Regions from separate parts of the Homo sapiens genome. Here region 1 is linked to region 2. A link means that fine-mapping ties the variant in region 2 to the expression of a gene that starts in the linked region. Tissue or cell type: whole blood. Region 2 holds a variant in brackets; the other region holds the start of a gene. All regions are shown on one strand. Distances are between the middles of the regions.

The links. PIP is the estimated chance that this variant, and not a neighbour inherited with it, causes the effect.
Region 1: TAGLN starts here. The variant in region 2 is fine-mapped to the expression of TAGLN in whole blood (TOPMed, PIP above 0.99).

What each region holds. Positions count from the first base shown.
Region 1 is chr11:117,198,406-117,200,905 of GRCh38, forward strand. TAGLN (transgelin) reads left to right here and starts at 965. Exons shown (of 5, transcript NM_003186.5): 1 at 965-1,027. LOC100652768 (a long non-coding RNA gene) reads right to left here. Exons shown (of 8, transcript NR_045215.1): 2 at 1,446-1,507; 3 at 332-383; 4 at 1-31. RefSeq lists an enhancer at 1-185.
Region 2 is chr11:117,326,084-117,328,839 of GRCh38, forward strand. CEP164 (centrosomal protein 164) reads left to right here and starts at 1,771. Exons shown (of 33, transcript NM_014956.5): 1 at 1,771-1,821. RefSeq lists a silencer at 1,839-2,088. The variant A/G (reference allele first, on the strand shown) is at 1,076.

The DNA of each region.
Region 1 (2,500 bases), 130 kb before region 2:
GGTCTGTTTTCCAGGCTGGTAGGGACTGTTCCTAAAGGGAGGAAGGGATGATACCAGCCTCCTGAGCCTCCTTCTCCTGCGTTAGTGTCTCAGGCCCTGCCAGGCCTTATAGACCCTCTTATTGACACTGCCCACTGGATGGGGACCGGAGTTGGACTCAGCTTCTGCCGAACCCTCAAATCCCAGCCCCAACTAAAGCATATAACTCAAGACCTACCTGCACTGAAAGCTCTTCTCAACCTGAGCAGGGTGGTCCAATTGAAAGGGTGGGTCTGACCACCTCTCCTGCACCCATGCGGGTTGGCAGAGGTGTGCAGGATCTGCCACTTACCATTCACCATGTGGCCTTGAGGAAGACGCACTCGGGGCCTCAGTTTCCTCATCTATAAAATGGGGATGTAATTACACCCTCACACTGTAGCTGTGAGTATTCAATGAGAGCACTGCAAAGGGCCTGGTGTGGAGTAGGTCCTCAGGAAAGGTTGGATCCCATGTCCCATCAGAGCTAAAAGCCCCAGGAGGAGAGGGTGGCTGGTTTGTCCCCACAAACCCCTGGGATTCCCGGCTCCCCAGCCCCTTGCCCCTCTCTCCAGCCAGACTCTATTGAACTCCCCCTCTTCTCAAACTCGGGGCCAGAGAACAGTGAAGTAGGAGCAGCCGTAAGTCCGGGCAGGGTCCTGTCCATAAAAGGCTTTTCCCGGGCCGGCTCCCCGCCGGCAGCGTGCCCCGCCCCGGCCCGCTCCATCTCCAAAGCATGCAGAGAATGTCTCGGCAGCCCCGGTAGACTGCTCCAACTTGGTGTCTTTCCCCAAATATGGAGCCTGTGTGGAGTCACTGGGGGAGCCGGGGGTGGGGAGCGGAGCCGGCTTCCTCTAGCAGGGAGGGGGCCGAGGAGCGAGCCAGTGGGGGAGGCTGACATCACCACGGCGGCAGCCCTTTAAACCCCTCACCCAGCCAGCGCCCCATCCTGTCTGTCCGAACCCAGACACAAGTCTTCACTCCTTCCTGCGAGCCCTGAGGAAGCCTTGTGAGTGCATTGGCTGGGGCTTGGAGGGAAGTTGGGCTGGAGCTGGACAGGAGCAGTGGGTGCATTTCAGGCAGGCTCTCCTGAGGTCCCAGGCGCCAGCTCCAGCTCCCTGGCTAGGGAAACCCACCCTCTCAGTCAGCATGGGGGCCCAAGCTCCAGGCAGGGTGGGCTGGATCACTAGCGTCCTGGATCTCTCTCAGACTGGGCAGCCCCGGGCTCATTGAAATGCCCCGGATGACTTGGCTAGTGCAGAGGAATTGATGGAAACCACCGGGGTGAGAGGGAGGCTCCCCATCTCAGCCAGCCACATCCACAAGGTGTGTGTAAGGGTGCAGGCGCCGGCCGGTTAGGCCAAGGCTCTACTGTCTGTTGCCCCTCCAGGAGAACTTCCAAGGAGGTGAGGAGTGTGTGAACGCACCTGTGTTGGAGCACGGTGTCCCACTCTGGCGGGTCCCCAGGGCCTGAGCAGCAGCGATAGCCCTGTGACAATGTGAAGGGCCACAGAACTCTTGTATTCCAGTCAGGGGCAAAGAGTGGAGACGGAAGGCCTGTCCTTCTGACAAGCAGCCCCTTCCACTGTCTGACAGTGGGAGGTCACCCCCACTGTAGCAGAGGGGTGGGGGGCGGGTACTGCCAAGGAGGAGCTTTGGAGTGATAGGCGGGGCAGGCCTGGGACCCTTGGTCTTTCCCAAAGGGTGGTTCCCTTTCGAAGTTGCTATTCCAAAGGTAGCAGTGAGGATGGCACACATTTATGTAGCCAGGCCACTCCTGTTTGTCCGTGGAGTGGAGAGGAGCCACCCTCCTGCCCTCTCAGAGGTCCAGGTGTGCTCACTCCTATTTGGGAAGAGAGAAGGGGCACAGCAGCCCTGCAGGGGCCCCTGGCTCTGCTCGTGTTTCTGGGCTTCTGCTGGTAGGGGGTGCCACCTTCCCGTTTGACCCTGGACTTTCTTTCTCCACTGCCCACTTTCACCCACTGGGCAGCTCAGGGGAGGGGTCCTGGCAGGAGCCACAGGGCAGGAGGGTCCATGCCTGTCCATGCTGTCCTGGGAGTGTCTTGAGATGCCCCTGGGGGGGCCGCCCTGTAATCATCCTCCTCTCCCCCTCCCCACTGGCTCGAAGGCAGGACTCGGGAGGCTTCATCAGAGGACTCTAAAGGATTTCTGGGGATTCTCCACTTTTCGACCCTGACCCAGGAGGAGGAAGGGGAAGGATGGTGGTGCTGGGTGGGAGTGGGGATGGTGTGTGCTTCATCCCCCTCTGACCGAAATCCTAATCTTGTCTCTAGATCTGGGGGCTGCAGCGTTGTGTACCTGTCACCCTTAGCCTTGCTGCTTTGACCTGTATTGTCTGTTCTGACCCTCCTGAGACTGGAAGCTGGGGGTAGGGGACACACTCTCCTTCCATCCTGTTCCTCAGGAGCCCAGCAGGGGTGCAGAAGGGGAAGGCAGACATGAGGGCAGGTGGAGTGGGGGT
Region 2 (2,756 bases):
ATTTTTTAGTAGAGATGGGGTTTCTCCATGTTGATCAGGTTGGTCTTTAACTCCTGACCTCAGGTGATCCACCTGCCTTGGCCTCCCAAAGTTCTGGGATTCCAGGCATGAGCCACTGTGCCTGGCTCAAGTAGGAATTTTTATTTTATTTATTTTTTTAGACGGAGTCTTGCTCTGTCACCCAGGCTGGACTGGAGTGCAGTGGCTTGATCTGGGCTCATTGCAACCTCCACCTCCCGGGTTTAAGTGCCTCAGCCTCCTGCCTCAGCCTCCTGAGCAGCTGGGACTACAGGCGTGTGCCACCATGCCCAGCTAATTTTTGTATTTTTAGTAGAGACGGGGTTTCATCATATTGGCCAGGCTGGTCTCGAACTCCTGACCTTAGGTGATCCACCCGCCTTGGCCTCCCAAAGTGCTGGGATTACAGGTGTGAGCCACTGTGCCTGGCAAAGTGCTAGGATTACAGATATGAGCCACCAGGCCCGGTCGATAGTTTTTGTTATCAGGTATTCATGCGTGAGAACCCTCTCTTCATGGTCTTCCCTGGCTCCATTTGTCAGGGTTTTAAAACAAATGACTCTATTTTGATTTTGATAATTTTCACAAGGAATATGCTCTGTATATTCCAACAATCTGAGTTTCTCATCCTGGAATCAGCCTCTGAGTGGCACTGGGACTATCCTGAGTCAGCTACATCTCTAGAACCTATCAGGAGCGGCTCTATGAGCTTGGCCTCATCATTTTCCTCCTCAACTAGCAGCATCTGTATTTGTCTGTTTCTCAGTTTTCCTATTGATGTAATGGCCAGAACTTTCTTTGCCCCTCTTAACTTCTCTAGGAGGTTGGAGACATATGAGAGAAAGGAAGATTTGCCCTCCGTGCAAGCAAAACTAAAACTCTTCGGAATTATATTAGTAGCAACCTTTCTGCCCGACAGGGTGTGTGGAGGAGCTACACATTGTGTCACTTTTTTTCTTCTTCAATAGACTCTTTGAAATAGTTATGACAGACATTACTATCCCCATCTTGCAGACATACAAACTGAACCCTGGGCTTTGGTGAAAAGATGGATAGT[A/G]GAAAATAGGTTTAACTCCTGGTCAGGTGCTCACTGGTTTAATAGGAGCACAGGAGAGCCAGTTTTTTTGCGGGGAGAGATGGGGAGTGGACGCGTCTCCATTACCTTACATTCACATTTGTTTTGTTGATTAAAGTAACAATGGGTTGATTATTGATGACCACTGTATTATTCACCTGATGTTAATCATACTCCTAACAAATGATCAATTAGATAATTAGATAATTCACATTAGTATAAATACTCTAAATAGTCCTTCTCTGTCCTGGCAGAAATCCTCACGTCTAAACTCGGGGTCCTCTTTTTTTTTTTTTTTTTTTTTTAGTAGAGAAGGGGTTTCACCATGTTGGTCAGGCTGGTCTCGAACTCCTGACCTCAGGTGACCCACCCGCCTCGGCCTCCCAAATTGCTGGAATTACAGGCGTGAGCCACCGCGCCCAGCCGATGAGGTTCTCTTTCAACCTCTTGCGGATTCCCATTATCTATCTTAAACTACACTCTTTCAACCTCTTGCGGATTCCCATTATCTATCTTAAACTACACTCCCATCGTGCAACGGAAAACGGACAGAGCTCCTGCGTGCACCGAAGGGACTTCGAGCCAATCCATTGTCACAGCTCTCAGCCGGCGACCTATTGGCTCCTGCTGGAGGCGGGACTCCCGGTTGCTAGGCGGTACCTTTTCCGGAAGTGTTTGTTGCGCGCTGCAGGGCAACACCCCGGCGTCCCTGGAAGCTGGGGGAGCGGGTGGGTGTTGGGTGGCGTTGGGGGAGCTGCGCCTCGCCCAGAGCCTCGCCCGGAGCCTCGCCCGGAGCCTTCCGGGGTGGGGGATAGTTGAGGACCTCATCGAGGGAGGGGTTGGGCGGCGGGGAAGGGAGCGAGCGTGGCGGGGGACCCGAGGCACGCTCTCGAGCCAACGAGCGTGATGCGCTCGAGTGTGGGCGGGGACTGAGGGAAGAAGTGAAAATCGGACTGCCAGGCGACAGTTCCTCCGTTTGAAATCTCGCCGGCTCCTGAGCGGGCCACCGGGCCCGGGCTGGGGGTCTGGCGGGTGAGTGAGCAGCGGGTCGGGACGCGGGAGAGGGGCACTGGGCACGGGGCCCTGGTTTGCTTGCTCTGTTCATCGTTGGCGAGTGAGGCCAGGCCTTCCGAAGCTTGCTGGGATACTTCTGTGGCAGGCTTCCCCCCGGGTCCAAATCCGGGGCTAGCCCAATCTTATGCCATCTTTGGCCAGCTGGGAAAGTTGGAAAGCTTTTTTGTTTTTTCCTTTTCTTGCATTGGATTTAAAAATGTCCCTCTACCTCTGGCACCGCTCTCCTCACTTGGCTTCAGCGACTCCCTGTCCGTTCTCCTAACTCAGTCCTTGGCAGTAGAAAGCTCCCTTCTACTCGGCGCACTCCATCTCTTGCGTTATCAGCTTTTCAGCGTTGACTCGCCAAACTACTCCAGCCAGACCTCTTTCCTGAGCTCAGACCTGCTTACTGTCATCGTCAGCCTTCCCCGGTCCCTCCGATCTGTTTCTCCTCTTGTATTTTTTTATCTCAATGAAGGGCTTCACCATTCACTCAGCCAAGTCTGTCCCTTTAATTTATTCATCTAATAAATACAGCAAACATTTGTCGGACATGCCCTGTCTTCTAGGCAGTGTAGTAGGTGGGGCTGCCTATTGGACGAGGCATAGA